5 linked regions of the Homo sapiens genome follow. The protein of the gene in region 2 purifies or fractionates together with the protein of the main gene of each other region. This does not show direct contact. Each region holds a gene or a part of one and is shown on either strand. Other genes may lie near its edges. The genes, in order: GAPVD1, IVNS1ABP, DHX36, HNRNPR and HSPA12B.

Region 1 (3,645 bases), on a different chromosome or scaffold from region 2:
TCCTTTTGAATGTTAGGTCAAGAAATCCATGTACAGAGTCGTGCACTTCATTGGCTGTAACTGTCAAACTTGCCTTGTATTAGAAGTTAAATCCCATCGTAAATACATCACGAGGCCAGCTGTGTGATTTCTGAGACCTAGATGAGAGTCCATTTACTTCAGCCTTTGATTCAGTAAATGTTAAGCAGCAGAAGACTTCGAATGGTTGAAATTCATTGTTACAGGATTTAACTCATAAACCAATGAGAGATTTTTTTTTTCTCTGCAATGGTTGCTAAGTCTATTCCATGTTAACACTGTGGAAATAAATATGAAGATGTGGACATTGCATCGGGGCTCTTTTCTGTGGAAGAGAAGGTGGTGGGATTGGGGTGAAGGGCTACACTGGAGGCAGGAGATAGGGCTGTGCTGTGTTGGAGCCGGGGCTGAGGGTAGACCCCCCAGAGATTTGACATCTGTGACACCTGTGAAATGGGTTCGGGTGCTCATGACTCCATAGCTGGCGGAGGAGCACAGCACAGCTGTTGCAGGGGCAGCTAAGGTTTCCTCTGAAAATCTGTCAGGAGCAAGGACTACTTTGGCATTAACCATCACTGTTTGATTTCTTGACAGGTATGTGAGATGGGGAGTGATTTGATTTTTTTTTTTTTTTTTAATAGAAAAGAGGAATAGTTGTTCCCCAAATGTTTCTTCCTCCACTGCCTTCCAGTACTTTCTTTACATGAAAGATTAGTGTAAAAGTACAAAATCAGCCCAGGAAACATTCAGCAGCCACTAGTTACTACATAGAATTTATAAAGTGGATGTTAAATGGAGAGAGAGTTGGCTCAGGTCCCCTGAAATCTTGTAGGATTAACTTCTCTGAGGAAAAGAAAAATCAGGTTTGCATTTTGTATTAATATTCTGCTTTTAGAAGTAATAGAAATACAAGTTGAAGATTGTCTTTACTTACAAAATTATATTTTAATTTTTTTTGAGACATAGTCTTGCTCTGTCACCCAGTCTGGAGTGCAGTGCTGTGATCTCGGCTCACTGTAACCACCATCTCCCAGTCTCTAGTGATTCTCATGGCTCAGCCTCCCTGGTTGCTCAGATTACAAGTGTATGCCACCACACCCAGCTAATTTTTGTATTTTTTGTAGAGACAGGGTTTCGCCATGTTGGCCAGGCTGGTCTCGAACTCCTGGCCTCAAGTGATCCGCCTACCTCGGCTTCCCAAAGTGCTGGGATTATAGGCGTGAGCCACCGTGCCCAACCACAAAATTATATGTATATATATTTAAACGTGTCAAACATTTTGCTTTCTTTCTCCATTTTAGGTAAAATCTCAGCCACAGTAATTGCTTTCTTCTGCTTTTTCTTTATAAAAACCTGCTTATGAAGGCCTTCTGATACAGATAGTTAAATCGCTGTAGTAGGAGGCTCAGGTTTTCTAAGGGATTGCAAATGTGCTGCATGGTTTTTCTATTCCTATGTCCTGGAAGCCTTTGTTTAAAGTGGGCTTTACAAATGTGTCCCTGAGGTGCGTGAGCAAGAGAACAATCTCAGCCCCAATACGGGGGCTGTGTTCTTGCCGTAAGAATCTGTAGCTGACTGGTGTGCTGAACCCGGGCACTCTTTTTCCTATTGTTTGCCATGGAAATTTCCACTTTGGACCGAGTAAGGTCAACTAGGTGTTTTAAAATTGTTTTTCTCCTATGTGATTGGGTGTGAAGAGGGAAAGTAGGAATACACTCAGAATTATTACTGGATTGCATAAAAGTGATAGAAGTGTAGTGGGGTTCACTTCCTCAATTGGTGCTTCCTAGATTTTTCTCTCCCATCTCTTCCTGCTTTGTTTCTTTAAAGAAAAGGCTGTTGTCTCTCTTTTTAAATATTTAAGTCTAGTGAGTTTATTTTGTACGCAATTGCTTTAATTTTAAGGGAAGTAAATCTGAAACTATCTTGAAGCCCAAAGGATTTTTAGTAAGTGGATTAACAGTGATGAGGTATTTGCGATTACTTTAAATGCCAAAATGCTTGAGAACTTTGCCAGGTTAAAAATTACTTAATATATTTTAGAATGTAGGTTAGAAAGTAGTAGGACAAGGAATAGCTTTATTACTCTTGAGAACACTTGGATAAATGAAAATATAGTTTGCTTCCGTGTTAAGTTGTGGTTGAGCTATGGAGTGACCCTGGAGCTGCCGCATCCCACAGGCCTGAGCTCAGCAAGGGTTCAATTCAAGAGAGATGACGTCTCCACTTGGATAATGGCAGACAGTGTGGGTAGCGGCCATGCACTAGGGGAATTCACCTCTGTCAAATTAATACTCTCCTGTCTACTGGATTCTTCTTGTGCTTCACCTGGATTAAAAAGCTGTACTGCCTCTTTTGAAACAGATAAAACCTTTCTATAAGTCTCAATTAATGAGCTTGCACAATCTTGTATATGTACAGGAAACCCCTCCTGTCTCCTAATGTGATTAGTACTGTAAAATATTCTATAAAACTGATTAAAAGGGGAGAGCAGTTTGATTCACAGGGTTTTATGTTTCTGTCATCTATTTTATATTCAGAAGCATTTCTGAAAACGTATTTGACTTCCGAATGTTCTGATGTTCTCCGTGAATTCACACACATCTTTTTTATCTGAACAATAAGGGTGTTTGCTAAGTATGGCACAAGAAGGAACTAGAATGACCTGGCAGTAACTAACACAATGGTGAACATCTAAGGGTTTTTTTTTTTTTTTTTTTGAGACAGGGCCTGGCTCTGTCGCCCAGGCTGGAGTGCAGAGGCAGGATCTAGGGTCACTGCAAACTCTGCCTCCTGTTCTCAAAGATCCTCCAGCCTCAGCCTTCCCAGTAGCTGGGACAACAGGCATACGCTACCACACCTGACTAATATTTGTATTGTTTGTAGAGGCAGGGTTTTGCCATGTTGCCCAGTCTCCTGAGCTCAAGCGATCTGCCCGCCTCAACCTCCCAAAGTGCTGGGATTACAGGCGTGAGCCACTGCACCCAGACCTTCATCTATGGATTTAACAGTTTCTGCCTAATGCCTATATTTGGTAGCTATTTATCATTTTTCATTTTGAAAGCAAAAGTGTTGCCATCTAATCACAATATTCATTTAGGCCTTTATTAATCTTTCCAGCCAAGGGAAGTTACTTTTGACAAGGAGTACTAACTCATTCTTCAGGCTTCCCTTGCTGGTGAGAAGGCGCTTTTCTTATATTGATTGCACTTCATTTAGAAGGAAATAGTTAAAAACTTGCTTACGGCCCATTTCCATTTGCTCTGTTCAGTATTTTTTTTTTTTTTTTTGAGGCAGAGTTTTGCTCTTGTTACCCAGGCTGGAGTGCAATGGCTCGATTTTGGCTCACTGCAACCTTCGCTTCCCAGGTTCAAGCAGTTCTGCCTCAGCCTCCTGAGTAGCTGGAATACAGGCATGCGCCACCACGCCCAGCTGATTTTGTATTTTTAGTAGAGACGGGGTTTCGCCATATTGGTCAGGCTGGTCTCGAACCCCTGACCTCAGGTGATCCACCTGCCTCGGCCTCCCAAAGTGCTGAGATTACAGGTGTAAGCCACCGCACCCGGCCCACTCTTCAATATTAAAACGAGTGGTATGACGCCTAGAACCAAAAATAGCATTCAGCTT
Region 2 (4,704 bases):
CATGGGTGCAATTAAAGTCCAGGTATTATTTTCAGGATTGTATCGTTCTACTGTGTTCAGACAATTCCAAGATTCTGCACCTCCGATTATGTACAAATAACCACCAAGCTCACAGACTGCAGACTGGTGTCTCCCTACAAGAAAAGTCAAGTCAAGATTATTGCTACATCTCCCAGACTCTAAGTGTATACTACACATACTGTTGATTTGAAGGTCTTTAAAAAAAAAAAGGAAAAAAAATCAACTTACGAATGTTAAGAGGGGCACAGCTTGTCCACAACTTTGTTACAGGATCAAATACATCACAATTTTTCAGTCCTTTTTGACCATATGGATCAGAGCCACCAACGATGTATAACTTTCCATTCAGAGCACACACTCCTATGTAAGTATAAAATAAAGTTACATATTGATAATTTAATTATCATATTTAAATACTGGATATCTCAGGAGAAAACTATTATTACCTGCATTACAACGGTTAGTTCTCAATTCTGGAACAGGAATCCAGTCATCTATGTTTGAATCATACATCTCTCCACAACTCAGGTCATCTGAGTGGCCATTTGATCCACCTACCACATAGAGCTGGCCCTATGCCAAAAGTGAGAGATGAGAATTTCTAACATCCTGAAGTTACGAGGAAAAAGCTAAATAGGGGTTGCTCCTGCAACATAATGCGCTTACCATGAGTACAGCCATTTGAAATCGGGCTCTTGGTGTTCTCATGGGAGCAAGAAAGGACCAGTGATCTGTATGTGGATTATAGCATTCGACTGTTCGAAGACATTCCTCTCTGTTATAGCCACCTGGTAAAAAATAAAACCATAAAGATTTATGTTTAAAATATTAAACTGGACCACGGTTTCCAGTCCTGTAAGTTTAAGAAATCTGCACAATGAGAAAAAGTATTAAAACTTTTTAAGGATGCCTTAGTTGATCTTTTAACTAAGTGCTTGTAATAGCTGAAAAATCGCATTATCAGTACAAATAAACTGCTTAGTCTTGGCTTGAATATTAGAAAAATTTAGCCATGACATAATTTTTTTAAAAATTAGATACAGACATTGAACTGAAGGTTAGCCATATTCAATAGTATTGTTATTTCCCTATCTTATTGGATTGCCGTGAAAGATGGCATATTAAACCCTCTCTTTGAAAGTTTGCATGTCACAAAAATGCCCATCTACATGCTTAGCCAGTTGAATGCTTCTGTTCTTACCTGCAGCTATGAGTTTGCCATTCATCTCTGCTGTTCCCAGACCAGATCGTGCGTACTGCATAGGAGACATGGGCTTTTCGATTAGCTCATCTTGTTGCATCTCAAAGCTTAAACTCTTACTTAGTTTTGGAGTACTTGTTGGTGAGCTCTGTGGGCTGTTTCTCCCATGAAGAAAAATGACACAGAATATACCATCCAGCACAGCCAGGCACAAGTAAGTGTTATCTGTAAGCACAAGAGTTCCATGTTTAAGATGTAATTATTACTTTTGGTTTGTGTATATGATCCTGAATTGGACTCCAGTCTCCACATCCCAGACTGGAACAATCTGCTCTCGTTTTCCAAATTTAATTGCTTCTGAGTTTTTTCCTCGAGTAGTCAATTTAAGAGGTATTAAATTGGCAACACTCCTTCTTAAAAATAGGTAAGCTGAAAACAATCTGGCAAGTGTCATATACTTACTTGAAGTCTTTTCTGAAGCAACGATTTTCCACTCATGCTTAGGGCTTTGTACTGTAGCATTTGGAGAAGAGAGACATCCAGTTGAACTGCTACTTATCTGCTTATGGCCATTCTCACGTGGTGGCTTTTTCTGCAAAATCAAAAGGTAGCTACAGAAACCTAGCCAAAGACCACATCTGATGTACCTTTGTTCCTGAGCTATTCCACAACACTGAGTATCCTTCACCTATATATGACATTTATAGGACACTAACTTTAACTCAAGCCAACACTTTCCAAATGACACAAATTACTGGCATACTTCCATCTCCACTCAATGATGAGACAACTACGCCTACACAATTAGCCTAGGTAAGAAAAAGCTCAGTTTTAACAATTTGAAAAACATGTTGCAAATCAAGACCTCAGCAGAAGAAAAAACCAATCTATAATTATTTTTATATTAAGTATAGAATCTTTTAAAAGAATGCTATAAATTTAAAATAGTGTGAATTAACAGAGAATACATTTAACCCACTATTTTCATGAAATTGTCAAACCTAACTAAATCATATGTACAGGTATCCTTCATACAATGCCAGCAAAACGTAAGCAGATATAGATTCATCCAGTTTCTCTGAAAGTACTTGACAGGAAAAAAGTGGCAATTACAAGAAACACTTAAAGAATATTTCTTTAGGATTACCTTATAGGTATTATAGAGTGGTTTTCTAGACAAAATTACATCAAAACACAAGAAAATAGTAATCAGAAATGAAACATTACTAAAAACAACCAAATATTCACAAAAGTAGAATATACAGGAATACTAAAGAGGGAGAAATGAACAAAGCTGCCAATTTCCAAATGATTGTAAGAGAACTACTTTACACATGTGTTCTCATGTATGAGTTTTCCTTGATGGCTTCCTTCCAATTACTTTAGCCTTTGCCACTTCCAAAGGATATGATCATATGGAATTGGAAGAGTAAAGACTACTCTGAGAGGAACTGCCAAATGAACAGGTAGCAACTTCAGCACCTGGCCTAGTTTGCTCATCCCACTTGTGCTGGTCCAGATGGCCAGAACACATGGATAGGTAAAATTTCTAATGGAAATTTCTGTTGCTAGTGGAAGCAAAAAGCCATATAACAAGTAATTGAGAAAAAGATTTTGCTAGCTACTTGAAGCTATTAAGAAAAAGCTATATCAAAAGTTAGGCCTGAGTGTGGTTACAACATACGTAGGCTATTTTGAGAAAAGGCAGGGAATGTATCATTATCAATGGTTATGATTAAATTCCACTTAGATGTTTACTATGTACCTAGGTATTACTAGGTACTTTATTTACATCATCTCTTTTAGTCCAGTGAGGGTGATATTATCTACCCATTTTATAGATAAAAATATTGAAACTCAAGAAGATATGCATTGCCCAAGGCAATACAACTAAAATAAAGATTAGGAATTATGAAGATAAACCCCATCCTTTTTATACTATGACAAGTTATGTCATACTATAAAACAGATTTACACTATGACAGGCTGTTTTCCACTGTTACTAAAGTTGTGAATGCATCTTTCATATCACTTTTATACTATGAATATTAAGAATAAAAAATAAGGTTAGACTTATCTAACCTTATCTATTATTATGAATTACAAGGTACATAAAACCTCATCCCAACCTATGGGAAGAAGGGATCCAAATATCACAAATGGATGATGCTTACATTGAGGCTGTACTGAAGTAAAAAAACTGTTCTAATGTACAAACTATAATTAAGAGAAAATGACTGTGAAAGAGAAAGGCCCAAAAGCAATGCCTAATAACAAGCCTAATATAGAAATGCTGATTAAATCCTTTATATGTAAAGAATATATCCCTAAACCTTATTTTACATGACCTCCCAGAGAACTTGACAGTGTTTAGTCCTCCTTCAAACTTTCTTCTCCTACCTTAGGTAGCTTTTACAACATGATTAGATTCTTATTGTCCTCTGACTTTTCTAATGGCTTCTTCTCAACCTCCTTTTTCTATTCCTGAAGTCTAACATGTGTCCCTCGCATCCTCTTCATGATCTCTATTCATGGCATCACATTCTAATGAGTCACACATGTCAGAATCCCACTTATTCTCAAATTCTTTCTTTTCCCTAATCTTGCTAAGCAATCACTAAGGCCTGCTAAGTCAACCTTTGTAAATATAAATGTCTATTTATATATAGACATAAATAAAAAATCTATCCTTTCTCCTTCATGCCCCTAGATTAATCCCTCATCATTTTTTTAAAACCTGAACTACTGCTGGCAATAGTCTATAAACTGGGCTCAAACTTTTATTGATTTTCTGTGTCTGGTTATAAAAATAGGAAGGGTCCAAGGCAACAATTTTAGAAAATAAAACCAGAAATCAGTTGGGATATTCCAGCCCAAAGACTGCCACCTAATAGACTGTTCCCCAGTTTTTCACCATTACTAAAGTGAATGCAAAACTTTCGTATCACTGTATTCTTACCTAAGGCTTCCCACTGCCTATAGGATAAAGTATAAGCCCCATTCAGGGAGCATTTACCTACTTTCCCAGTCTTATGACCTGCAATTCCAAGAGTATCATCCTCACAGATACTCTTTGCTAACACCTCTCCCTTTATCTGCTATGCAGACTCCTCTAAATCCTAACACTGCTCAAAAGTTACCTCTTGTGTGAAATATCCCTGGCTTCTCTCCTGTCTCACTGTGTCCTCTCCTTTAGGCCTTTCGTAGCTACCTCTTATAAGCCTGTATTGTTTTGCCCACTCTTAGAAGGTCCTACAAGCAGAAACTGTCTCTTACACATTTTTGTGTTGCCATACCGAACATTATGGCCTGCCACTTATTGGGCACTCAACCTCTGCATGTTGAAAATGTACTTTTAAAATGTTAACTCAAAATGTTTAGAGTTAAGGGGGAAAATATCCTCAATATATTCAAAATGCACAAACATAGGTTCTCAACTAATTCAAATTCCAAAACTTTTAGAAATATTCACTCACTGTTGC
Region 3 (3,500 bases), on a different chromosome or scaffold from region 2:
GTATTTTGACCTCTGATGTGATGTTTGCTTTTTACAGTGTGTACTGCTTGTTTCGCTTGTTATGAAATGTAAAGAGCATTTAAATAACAGTACCGAAGTGATTTTTTTATTAGTAATTTTGAAATAGTAACAATCTATTTGTTTAGGTTTTGTTTTGATTACCTTTCTCCGCTAATTCCGGGTGCTACAAGTAGTAATGCTTATCTAGAATTCAGTAAAACTTTGATATTCTGGATATTCTATTATGGCACCATCTGGGTTAATGATGAAGAGAAAATAGACTTCTAACTAATGGATTTTGAGTTCAACTTAAAACTCTATTCTTTGATATTCTGTGTTATTTTGTAGAACTGTGAGATGTGTGTACAGTTTGGTAGCAGTAAAATGGTATTGAGTGAAGACTAGACTGCTGTTTTTTATTAAAGTAGGTGTGGAAAAGTAGGGTAGAATTGTAAAAGCTACAGGACCATTTTCTGGAATTAATAGTAAGTAATAGAGTCATTGTCCTATTTACAGTATATTAATGTTTTTAACATTTGAGTACAAATTTATGCTTATATTTTGTCTGCCGTAATAGGTAACTGTCCAATGATACATATACCTGGTTTTACCTTTCCGGTTGTGGAATATCTTTTGGAAGATGTAATTGAAAAAATAAGGTAAGTAAACATTAGGAAATAAAAAACATTAAAAAGTACTAATATATCACTTTTCTCATGTCAAACTTTAGTCTCAGAAACCCATCATTGACTATTTCCTTGTAAAACATTTTTCTGGGAATTAGCCACACTTGGCTGCACATTAAAATTGCCTGGAGCTTTTTAAAATCCAGATGCCTGATTTATACTCCCTACCTAAATTACATTACAGTGTCTGAGGTAGTAGCCAGGCATCCGTGGTTTTTTTTAATTGAGACAGAGTCTCTCTCTGTCGCCTAGCCTAGAGTGCAGTGGAGCTATCTCCGCTCACGGCAACCTCCGCCTTCCAGGTTGAAGTGATTCTCCCACCTCAGCCTCCCAAGTAACTAGGATTACAGGTGTGTGCCACCATGCCCAGCTAATTTTTGTATTTTTAGTAGAAACTAGTTTCACCGTGTTGGCCAGGCTGGTCTCAAACTCCTGACCTCAAGTGATTTGCCTGCCTCAGCATCCCAAAGTCCTGGTATTACAGGTGTGAGCCACCACGCCTGGCTGGTGTCAGTGTTTTTTGAAGATTCCTGGGCAGCAAAGTTTGGGAACCTTTGTCTTTAGTGTTTGAACCCTTTTGCTGGTTCTCCTGCCTGATTTTCACTTTCCTTTGTTGGCTTCCATTGCCGAACCTTTAAATATAATTTCCCCCAGTCTTCTCAATCATTTATGTTTTCACTGTGCAAACCTGTTTATATCCCTAACTGTAGTTCTGTATTTTCACAGCTTTCAGTAGTGTAGCTTCAGAACTGAAGCTTCTCCTGACCTTCGAACTGGCTTTCTGCTCAATAGTATTCTAGTACCACAGATGCCTTGAACCTAACATTTCTCAAGCCTAAATCATTATCTTATATTCTCCCACCAAAAAAATAAAACAATGTGTCTTGCCCAGCATACTTTATAATGGTTAATAATTATCCTCCACTTAGTTTTCTGACCTATAAATCAAAAAGTTAGTGTGTATCAGGCAGTTATGTACCAGGGTATGGCAACTGTTTTACACAGTGAGTAACCAAGTTAATCCAAGTCATTTTGTACTGCCTTCAAACACACACAAACTCTGGGAACTTTCTTCTTGAACATGCTTTCTCATTTTTATTTCTTTGCTAAGGTCCTTACTATCTCTCCTGTGCTAATACAATAGTTCCTCTTTTGGTACTATGTTCTTCACTCTTAGGGAAGCACTCTTTGTGCTATACATGAGGCTTTATCACTTTTTTTTTTTTTTTTACTTTATCACATTTTTAAAAATCTCATGCCAGTACTGTTACAAACATTAATCTCTCAAATAAGATAACTAAAGGCCAGATGTTTAATGCCTTGTCTAAGGTTACACAGCTAGTCAGTAGCAGAGGAGGGATATTCTGACTTGGGAGTCCATGCTCCAGCCCCTCCCCCATTCCATCTAGATGCTGTCCTCTAGTTGAGCTCAGAGATGCCTTGGGGTTAAAGTGTGGGTTCATTTTTGTCTTTTCCCACCTCGTGCCTCTCAGGACTGACAATGATAGGTAGAATTATTGTCCAGATGCGCCCTCTATGGTTTTAGCAATCACTACAGGATGGTAGTAGAATCATAGTACAGCACTCAATTGACATATGAGAGACTTGAATACTGATTCTGGATCTGCCATTAACTACAACTGTGTGACTGAGCAGAATTAAATAGTTCTCTAGCGTGGGTCTGTAGATCTGGATACACTATCTGAATCTCCTGCAGGCACTAATTAAAATTCTTAGATTAACAGACCCAAGGCATACCTACCAAATCCAAATCATCAGGGATGGGATTTAGGAGTCTGTATTTTACAAGCTCTCTGAGGGATTCAATTCTTACGTGCAGTCAGGTTTGGACTTAACATTAATATTAACTTTTGTTCTAAAGCAAACTTAAAATAGAAGGTAAAAGTTACTTACTTTAGTCTTTTTCTAAATTTTTGACTAAAAATGATCTATAGGTTTATATACTTCAATAAAGAAGAATGATTTTTATCCAAAATATCAGGTTTTATAAGTTAATGAACACAAACTGATATTTTAGCTAGCATTCACTTGAAAGCATAATGAAAATGTTCTTTGGAATCCTTTTTGAAAATCCTAAATATAAAATGTCACAGATTTTAGCTAAAACTAGAGTTTCAAAAAAGTGAAGATATTCAAGAATGTTTTTATTTTAGGTATGTTCCAGAACAAAAAGAACACAGATCCCAGTTTAAGAGGGGTTTCATGCAAGGGCATGTAAATAGACAAGAAAAAGAAGAAAAAGAAGCAATATATAAAGAACGTTGGCCAGATTATGTAAGGGAACTGCGAAGAAGGTAAGTTTATTTTGTCTGAAGGTGAGAAATCAGTGGCTAAATAAAACAAAAAGCCAGAGGCTGGGGGCATCTTCTTGAATCTGTACGTACTTAAAGGAGAGCATTGTGAGTCTCTTATTCGAGCTAAATATTGTGCTGATTTGACTTTTAAGCAGTAATTACCCCAGTAATTCTCTCCGATCTGTAGATTATGTTCCTCCATTTGCAGATTGAGTTAATTTTAAGCTTTTGTAGCAAGTTAACAGAAAACTTGATTAAGTATTTCATGACTTTGTGTTTAACTTTGATAGGTATTCTGCAAGTACTGTAGATGTTATAGAAATGATGGAGGATGATAAAGTTGATCTGAATTTGATTGTTGCCCTCATCCGATACATTGTTTTGGAAGAAGAGGTTAGTTTTATTTTTCTTTCTTCAGTTAACATAATTTTAATTTTATTAACGTATCAAGGCCATGAAAAATACAGTTTTCTTAAATGCTTATGAAATAGACTGGAAG
Region 4 (4,704 bases), about 160 Mb from region 2:
TAATGACAACATAGGAGAAGGCAGGAACCAATAATTTTTGTAAATTGGTGACTGATATCAGTGTCATTTTCCTAGCAATTTCTCTTACTACCTGTAACAACACTTTTAGCACTTAATGTTTTAGAGGAGAAAAGCTATGCTATGAAGACAGGAAGAAACACTTTTCAGGTAAAATTAAGTAGCCAATGACGGTTTTGTTTATTTGTTGCTTACTAGGTAAAAGTTTTGTTTGTGAGAAACTTGGCTACTACGGTGACAGAAGAAATATTGGAAAAGTCATTTTCTGAATTTGGAAAACTCGAAAGAGTAAAGAAGTTGAAAGATTATGCATTTGTTCATTTTGAAGACAGAGGAGCAGCTGTTAAGGTAGGAATTTTGAAATTTTGGTTCTTGATATTTGAATTTTGTTTTTGAAACTTGCCAAACACAAAGTAACTTTAAAAACTGAAACAATATTGGTTGTCAGCTTTTGCTGAACTCTTTCTATTTAATCTCTGTAAAGTGGTAATAGTATGTAACAGATAAGACTCCATATTTCAAAGCCAGGTTATTACTGAGTTTGTGATCTTAGGCAAGTTATTTTTAATCTCTGTATTGTTTTGTAAGATTCGATAGCATGATGCCTTGGAAGTATTACAAGGTATAAAAATTAGCTGCTGTAAACACTGAATAGGTAATGAATGCATTATAACTACTTAGTTGACCTCAGTTTGTGTACCTATGAAGGAAACTGAGTGGTGTACATGACTCATACAGTATACCATGTTTAATTGAGTAGATAGATTTTGAGGGTATGATTAGTTTTACCTTTATTTAATCATTTTAGAGTTAAAATAGCATTCACTATGTTTTACTGATTTCGGTAATTGTTAGAGATATCACTTGTGTATAATAGTTGATTTAGTCTTTGATGATAATGAAAAGTTTGAAGAAAGTATTTTCATATGGTATCTGGAACACAAAACCTGCTTTCTATCGACAATGGTTTAGGACTATCTTTAATGGGTGAAATTTTCAGTTTCTTTTTTTTATTCATCTCTCCTTCCTTGGGGGGGTGGGAGCAAGACAAAACACTACTAAAATCTTATTTATGTTATTAGGAAGATAGATCCAGAATGCTTAGTGACACAGGCATGGTTCTTTTTCTGCATGTTTGGTCGGTGGGATACTGCCATCTCTAATCTGAGCATTTTTTGGTTTTGTTTTTTGCCCAGGCTACTGCTTTTAAAACAGGCTTTATAGAATCCCTGATTGGTTTATAATTAATTGGCTTGCTCATTGATGGTAGCTAATTAATGAGGCAGTATTGTTCATAAAATTCATAACTTGTCCAAGATCACAAACTCAGTAATAATCTGGCTTTGAAGTATGGAGTCTTATCTGTTATGCTGTTATACTCTTATCCGTTCATTTGTGGCTTCTGAAATTTCACTGGTATAGAATGCAGATAACTAATAATTTTATGCTGTCTAAATATTCCTCCTGACTCGACTGGTTTCAAATAACTGGTTGTCCTGATTGAAAATATTTATAGGATGGTTTGCCAAAGAAGCCTATGAAATTATAAAATATCTAGTCCAGGAACTGGGAGTCACCAGGATGGTCAGGGCAGAGGGTAGATGTTTCATTTTTTAATTTATGCCAGGAAGCTTTTGTAAACTTGTTTAGTTGCTTTAACTGAAGCAACGCAAAGCTGAGGTGGTAAAAGGGAAAATTGCAGTCTTGAGGACTAGTTTCGTTTTTGTCTAGATACTTATAAATCACTGATAGCTCCAATAGAACATTTTTTTATGTGTGCCCAGAGTGGGGAAAGGTATAGGGAAACAAAAAATAAAATATCATGAGGAGGTGACATTTTGTTACTGAGTACCTGAACCTTTTGATGTATGGCAGAGGTTGTTAGGTGGAACAACGTGAACAAAGGGCTAGAACATGGAATGTTTGATTACTGCTTTCTACATAATTGCTTGAGTCTTCATTAGTCCAGGCCTTTTCTGGCTCTGTACTTTTAACTGTTCAAGCAAAGTACATTTTGGGTTAAGCATTGTGAGGGAAACCTAGGCTTTTTTGTGTTAGTATCTTCTTGAATTTTACAGATAATCTCACTCAGTAACCTCATTTGTGCTTCAAATCCTTGAAATTGTCGTATAAGAACAGTGGAAGACCTGTATGTTGTATGCTACATGTTTATTTTAAAATTCTAATCCTGAGAAGTTAATCTTTGTCTGGCTCGTATTAATACTGGCATTTTTCCCCGGTATGGATTTGCTTCTTTGGTATGGCTTATCTTTTAAGGAGTTATTTGGAATTAAGGAGCAGCAATAGGTGGCAGCCCTTTTACCTTTTAAAATATAATATCAGGTGGTCGGTTTTGTTCTAAATGTAATTTATGTATAAAAAGATAAGGTCAAGGGAAACGTATTTTCTTTGTGTGTTTGTGTTTAACTTTCTGGCTAGATTCACCTTTTGCCATTTAAAATAATTGTGAAGTAAATTGTTAAGTGTATTAAATTACACAAGTATAATAGCTTACATACTATATAAAACAAAATACAGTTTTATATCGTTGTAAAATAATTTTTCTAATTTTTTATAGGCTATGGATGAAATGAATGGCAAAGAAATAGAAGGGGAAGAAATTGAAATAGTCTTAGCCAAGCCACCAGACAAGAAAAGGAAAGAGCGCCAAGCTGCTAGACAGGCCTCCAGAAGCACTGCGTGAGTCTACATTTTAGTAGATATATCTTTGGACAAGGAATAACGTGATAATGGAGATCAGATTAATAAAACAAAATCAGAGTCTTGAAGCAAACTGATTTGTTTTTTCTTTTCTCCCTTCTCTACTTTGCTAGGTATGAAGATTATTACTACCACCCTCCTCCTCGCATGCCACCTCCAATTAGAGGTCGGGGTCGTGGTGGGGGGAGAGGTGGATATGGCTACCCTCCAGATTACTACGGCTATGAAGATTACTATGATGATTACTATGGTTATGATTATCACGACTATCGTGGAGGCTATGAAGATCCCTACTACGGCTATGATGATGGCTATGCAGTAAGAGGAAGAGGAGGAGGAAGGGGAGGGCGAGGTGCTCCACCACCACCAAGGGGGAGGGGAGCACCACCTCCAAGAGGTAGAGCTGGCTATTCACAGAGGGGGGCACCTTTGGGACCACCAAGAGGCTCTAGGGGTGGCAGAGGGGGTCCTGCTCAACAGCAGAGAGGCCGTGGTTCCCGTGGATCTCGGGGCAATCGTGGGGGCAATGTAGGAGGCAAGAGAAAGGCAGATGGGTACAACCAGCCTGATTCCAAGCGTCGTCAGACCAACAACCAACAGAACTGGGGTTCCCAACCCATCGCTCAGCAGCCGCTTCAGCAAGGTGGTGACTATTCTGGTAACTATGGTTACAATAATGACAACCAGGAATTTTATCAGGATACTTATGGGCAACAGTGGAAGTAGACAAGTAAGGGCTTGAAAATGATACTGGCAAGATACGATTGGCTCTAGATCTACATTCTTCAAAAAAAAAAATTGGCTTAACTGTTTCATCTTTAAGTAGCATTTTGCTGCCATTTGTATTGGGCTGAAGAAATCACTATTGTGTATATACTCAAGTCTTTTTATTTTTCCTCTTTTCATAAATGCTCTTGGACATTATTGGGCTTGCAGAGTTCCCTTATTCTGGGGATTACAATGCTTTTATCGTTTCAGGCTTCATTTTAGCTTCAAAACAAGCTGGGCACACTGTTAAATCATGATTTTGCAGAACCTTTGGTTTTGGACAGTTTCATTTTTTTGGATTTGGGATAGATTACATAGGAGTATGGAGTATGCTGTAAATAAAAATACAAGCTAGTGCTTTGTCTTAGTAGTTTTAAGAAATTAAAGCAAACAAATTTAAGTTTTCTTGTATTGAAAATAACCTATGATTGTATGTTTTGCATTCCTAGAAGTAGGTTAACTGTGTTTTTAAATTGTTATAACTTCACACCTTTTTGAAATCTGCCCTACAAAATTTGTTTGGCTTAAACGTCAAAAGCCGTGACAATTTGTTCTTTGATGTGATTGTATTTCCAATTTCTTGTTCATGTAAGATTTCAATAAAACTAAAAAATCTATTCAAAACATTACCTATTTCAAATTCAATTGTGTCCTAAAACATTATTTTATTCGTAATCCTTGCAAGGAATATTGTTTTCAAAGTATAACTGCCTATGTGAGTGATCAAATTCATGCAAAATTTCTTGTTTATTCCAACATGTGTTGTGGATATTAGACTGAGGATTAGTCTAAATTCAAGTATTTATTCCAATTAGCACTTTCATTGATTGGTGTTCTCTCATAGTCTCTTCTAATTTTGAAATTTTATCTTTTATTAAAAAAAAAAAAACAGGTTCATAGACTTTTGAGCATTCTTGCAGGCATTGGATAATTTGCATTAAAACAAATAAAATGTGGCTGGGAAAGCAGACTGCAATTTATTTTGACCCACATTCTTTATAAGGGATAATTTGTGACTGAAGACCTTATTTGCTGGATAAGTGAATGTACATACAGGGAAAATTGTTAGTACTGTGGCGTCAATTGCACTGCGGACTTTAGTTTTAGTGAAAATGATCGTGACTACCATTTCAGTTACTGGTTTAGGAATATAATTTCCTATTACTATGTAAATTTGCTTTGAGAAACATTCATGCC
Region 5 (4,704 bases), on a different chromosome or scaffold from region 2:
GAGCTCAAGCAATCCACCCACTTTGACCTCCCAAAGTGCTAGAATTACAGGCATGAGCCACCACACCCAGCCCTTAACACAGATTGATTTAGTTCCTACCTCCTTCCTTAAAGAACTCATGATGACTAGAATGCGATTCTCAGTAAGACCAAAATATCTAACAAGAAAATTCAGAATCTGCATCATGAAGGGAAAGAACACTGCTCAAACCTGCCCAACTCCCTGCTTTTATCAATACCTTGCATATCTGGACTTGTTAACATAAGCCCTCTGTGTCACCCATTCTACAGGAAAGGGCACTGAGGCACAGAGATGTGGCATGATGCACTCACGCTAGGTGCCATAATAGGCTCTTGCCATCCCTGAAACCCCAGCATAGGGGCACTCAGCATATCGCACAATGAGAGACGGTAGATAACTGGACAAGCTTCCGATAGCTGGGAAGAGTATAGGCCCATGGTTTGGATGTGGAATCCAGTGTAGAGCGAGGACTCAGTCTTTTTTTTTTTTTTTTCTTGAGATGGGGTCTCACTCTTCTCGCCCAGGCTGGAGTGCAATGGCGCGATCTTGGCTCACTGCAACCTCTGCTTCCCAGGTTCAAACGATTCTCCTGCCTCAGCCTCCTGAGTAGCTGGAATTACAGGCGTCTGCCACTACGCTTGGCTAATTTTTGTATTTTTAGTAGAGACAAGGTTTCACCATGTTGGCCAGGCTGGTCTCGAATTCCTGACCTCAGGTGATCCACCTGCCTCAGCCTCTGAAAGTGCTGGGATTACAGGAGTGAGCCACGGCGCCCGGCCCAGAGTCTTTTTTTTCTGGTGGTTCTAGGTTGTTTCTCCTCCAGATACAATAGCCTCGGTCCAGAAAATCCATTCATTCATTCAACAAAGTGGTTCCCCAGTGCTTAGCACAGAGCCTGGCATGAAGAATCTCGATAAGTGTTTGCTGAAGAATCAGAACAACATACAAATAAGGCTGCCAGCTCCTCCCTCGAGACCTTGATCCAGTAGTATGCTGGTTAATGGTTTCCAATCAGCTCTGGAAGAAGGATAAAATCCTGATTTATGGTGTTTGCCAATTTCTGTCTTGTAAATACTCCCAGCCATGACTGATTTGAAGCTACCAATGTGATGTCATTGAATGCAGAATTGGGAAGAGATAGAAAGAATCAGCTCGCATGAGCTGGTGGGACCCAGCTCAGCATCCCACTCCATCATCCTGAGCTGGGCTCTGGGCTCCTGCCCCTGGCTCCTAAGAACCCTCCCCTCCCCCTCTCTGTGCTTTCCCTTTTCTCCTCAACAGCCAGCTGCTATATGCATGCCCACAACCAGCACCCATCCTTCTTCTGATTCTGATTCCTGAGCATCCAACTCCAATGGTACAGAGGACAGCAAGAGTGTCTGGAAATCTCCATGGTGCTGGCCATGCAGGAGAATCCTGGACATACAAGAGTGTGTGGGAGTCCAGGTGTCTGTCCACAATGGGGCTGGTTTGTGTGAACTGTGTGAGCAAGGGTGTGTGCATGTGTCTATGGGCATGCCAGAGCCAGCTCTGTGTCTGCCTGTGTTCTATAGCAAAACTTTCAGATTGGGCCGCTGGTGACAGAGAAGGAATGCATTGGCCCTGCGTAGCCTCCTCCTTTGTTTAGAGGAGCAGCCAGGCCCACCAATGAGAACATAGTGTCAGTGGTCTGCAGACTGGCTGAGAGACACTGTTGAGCAACACTTCTCAAACTTCAATGTGCACCTGAATCACCTGGGAATCTTGTTAAAATAGGCCAGACGCGGTGGCTTACGCCTGTAATCCCAGCACTTTGGGAGGCTGAGACGGGCGGATCACCTGAGGCCAGGAGTTCGAGACCAGCCTGGCCAATATGGTGAAACCCCGACTCTACTAAAAATACAAAAATTAGCCAGGCATTTTTAGGTGGCATTTTAGGCAAATTAGGTGGCGCATGCCTGTGGCCCCAGCTACTTGGGAGGCTGAGGCAGGATAATCACTTGAACCCAGGAGATGGAGATTGCAGTGAGCTGAGAACTGAGATCACGCCACTGCACTCCAGCCTGGGGGACAGAGTGAGACTCTGCCTCAAAAATAAATAAATAAATAAATAAATAAATAAATAAATAAATAAATAAATATGAAATACATGTTCTGATTCAGCAGGTCTGGGCTGGGGCCTGAGGTTCTGCATTTCTAACAAGCTTCCAGGTGATACCAATGCTGCTGATCCTCAGCCCACACTTTGAGTAACAAAGCTGTTGATGGTTTGAAATATCCTGCCTATAGCCTGGCCCCAGAACTTCATAGACAGGATCGAGCCCCTCCCATCTTAGAAAATAAATATTCTTCCTCACCTCCCTTCAGCTTTAGCGCCCTCCAACTACTGCCCTCACATGTATTCCTGATTTCAGCCAAGCTTTTCAGAAATTCTAGCTCAATATGATTGCGTCACTACACTCCAGCCTGGGCAACAGAGTGAAACTCCATCTTAAGAAAAGAAGTTCTAGCTCATGTCACCTCTTGCTCACTCCTCACCTAAGCTTACCTCCCTTGGGCCACTAAAACAGTGTTTCCAGTCTCATCTGGGGACCTTTTACAGGGATCTAGCTTTACCCATCTCTTGGTACAATCTTCATGAGACCATGAGGCATCTCAGTCTCCTGGGCCGGTATATATTCCTCTGTTCAGCCTTTAAATGTAGGTTCTCCTCGTGACAGAGTGACACCCTATCTCAAAACAAACAAACAACGAAGGCCAGGCACGGTGGCTCATGCCTGTAATCCCAGCACTTTGAGAGGCCGAGGTGGGCGGATCACCTGAGGTCAGGAGTTCGAGAACAGCCTGGCCAACACGGCGAAACCCCGTCTCTACTAAAAATACAAAAATTAGCTGGGCATGGAGGCACTCACCTGTAATCCCAGCTACTGAGGAGGCTGAGGTAGGAGAATGGCTTGAACCTGGGAGGCAGAGGTTGCAGTGAGCCAAGATCGTGCCACTGCATTCCAGCCTGGGCAACAGAGTGAGACCCTGTCTCAGAAAAAAGAAAAGACAAATTGAGTCATGCCCCCACCCCACCCTGCCACCTCAAACCTTTCAAGATTTGCTGTTGCCCTTCATATAAAATCAAATCTGAAATAGGGTGCACAGGCCCTGCCTGCAGGGTAAGCCCAGCCCAGCCCTCTGTCCAGACTTACCATGTCCTCTTCCCACCCCGCATTATCCAACTTTGACCTTCCTAGCACTCAGCAACGCTTGTCATTTCAAAATCACTTGCCTGATTATCTCCTCCATCAGACCGTTGGTTTCTAGGGCAGGGACAGTGTCTCTCTGGGTCACTATCTCCCAGCACCTGGCACAGAGCAGGCACCAGAAAACATTTAGGAGGATCCTGATTCCAAGAAAGTAAAGCCATTTTTTGACACAAGCTGGGAACTGTGGGACTTTAGATGAGATTTAAGGAATTACTGTTAATTTCATTAGACATGAGAATGGTGTTGCGATGACATTGTTTAAAACGTCTTTATCTGTTGGAGAGATGTATTAAAGAGTTCACGGGTGAAACAACATGATGGCTGGGATTTGCTTCAAAGGACTCCAGCCAAAAGTAAACAAATAAAATAAATAAGCATTCAGATGAGGGAACAAAGGGACAAATAAATCCCACTCTGCTTGTCTGTTCCTGTTGACAGCTACAGGGCCTGCAAGGATGTTGGCTGTCCCGGAGATGGGCCTGCAGGGGCTGTACATCGGTAAGAACCCCCACCATTCTGCCCTGACCCATCACCCACTCACCCGAGCAGGCACTGAGACCCACCTACAGGTTGTGCAATGTACCTCTCCCACAGAGCTTCCCAACAGCTCTTCTGTGAGTGAGTGTGTGTGTGTGTGTGCATGTGTGCAGGGCAGGTCTGTGTTTACTGGACCCCCCTGTGTGTGCAGAAAGGGTCTGTGTGCACCGGTCTGTGTATGTGAGTATGTGTGCACACAGGACTGGTCTATTCACAGGACCCTCATGTGTATATGAGTGTGGGCTGAGTGCGTGTGTTTGTGTGTGCCAGAAGGGTCTGTGCACACAGGAGTGTATGCATGTGCGTGTGTTTTGTTCAGGCTCTGTCCACAGGACCCTGTGTGAGTGTGTCAGTGAGTGTGTGTCTCTGCGGGCAGGTCTCTGTGCACGGGATCTGTGTACGGGAGTATAGTCTGCAGGTGGGCATGCATACAGAGAGTTCTGCGTGTGCATGGAGGGTCTGTGTGCACAGGAGTGTTTGAATGTCCATGTGTTTTGTTCAGGCCATGTGCACAGGACCCCGTGTGAGTGCATCAGTGAGTGTGTGTCTCTGCGGGCAGGTCTCTGTGCACAGGATCTGTGTACGGGAGTATAGTCTGCAGGTGGGCACGCATGCAGAGAGTTCTGCGTGTGCATGTGCGTCTGGCCATAGCCTGGTCTGGGAGCAGGCTTGGGTTCTCCGCAGGGGTGGGAGGCCGGAGGCAAGAGGGACACTCCTCAGGAAGTCCATTCACAAAGACCTGGTGGGCTGGGCCCTTCCTTCCTGCCTCCCTTCCCAAGCTCGAGCCACAGCAACTTGGCCTCTCGGGCTGCAGCTGGTGGCAGGGCTGGAGCCTGCCCTGGCTGCCTGAGGAGAGGGAGCCCTTGAAATGTGGCCACTTTTTCCCTGCCCCTCCAGCACCTCAGACTCTGGC

The links.
Region 1: the proteins of IVNS1ABP (region 2) and GAPVD1 purify together in Homo sapiens (affinity purification with mass spectrometry, with the first as the bait; one large-scale study listed by BioGRID). This does not show direct contact.
Region 3: the proteins of IVNS1ABP (region 2) and DHX36 purify together in Homo sapiens (affinity purification with mass spectrometry, with the first as the bait; one large-scale study listed by BioGRID). This does not show direct contact.
Region 4: the proteins of IVNS1ABP (region 2) and HNRNPR purify together in Homo sapiens (affinity purification with mass spectrometry, with the first as the bait; one large-scale study listed by BioGRID). This does not show direct contact.
Region 5: the proteins of IVNS1ABP (region 2) and HSPA12B purify together in Homo sapiens (affinity purification with western blotting; one study listed by BioGRID). This does not show direct contact.

The regions. Positions count from the first base shown.
Region 1 is NC_000009.12:125,364,682-125,368,326, forward strand, and holds the end of GAPVD1 (GTPase-activating protein and VPS9 domain-containing protein 1), read left to right. Parts: 3' UTR 1-2,526; downstream 2,527-3,645. UniProt on the Homo sapiens protein: Acts both as a GTPase-activating protein (GAP) and a guanine nucleotide exchange factor (GEF), and participates in various processes such as endocytosis, insulin receptor internalization or LC2A4/GLUT4 trafficking.
Region 2 is NC_000001.11:185,299,750-185,304,453, forward strand, and holds part of IVNS1ABP (influenza virus NS1A-binding protein), read right to left. Parts: intron 1,815-4,704; coding exon 1,685-1,814; intron 1,448-1,684; coding exon 1,223-1,447; intron 810-1,222; coding exon 688-809; intron 595-687; coding exon 468-594; intron 382-467; coding exon 250-381; intron 135-249; coding exon 1-134. UniProt on the Homo sapiens protein: Involved in many cell functions, including pre-mRNA splicing, the aryl hydrocarbon receptor (AHR) pathway, F-actin organization and protein ubiquitination.
Region 3 is NC_000003.12:154,300,488-154,303,987, reverse strand, and holds part of DHX36 (ATP-dependent DNA/RNA helicase DHX36), read left to right. Parts: intron 1-577; coding exon 578-659; intron 660-2,860; coding exon 2,861-3,001; intron 3,002-3,291; coding exon 3,292-3,394; intron 3,395-3,500.
Region 4 is NC_000001.11:23,309,215-23,313,918, reverse strand, and holds part of HNRNPR (heterogeneous nuclear ribonucleoprotein R), read left to right. Parts: intron 1-216; coding exon 217-366; intron 367-2,596; coding exon 2,597-2,718; intron 2,719-2,852; coding exon 2,853-3,465; 3' UTR 3,466-4,704. UniProt on the Homo sapiens protein: Component of ribonucleosomes, which are complexes of at least 20 other different heterogeneous nuclear ribonucleoproteins (hnRNP). hnRNP play an important role in processing of precursor mRNA in the nucleus.
Region 5 is NC_000020.11:3,734,966-3,739,669, forward strand, and holds part of HSPA12B (heat shock 70 kDa protein 12B), read left to right. Parts: intron 1-1,302; exon of another isoform or gene 1,303-1,375; coding exon of another isoform or gene 1,376-1,378; intron 1,379-1,425; exon of another isoform or gene 1,426-1,467; intron 1,468-3,692; coding exon of another isoform or gene 3,693-3,709; coding exon 3,710-3,752; intron 3,753-4,704.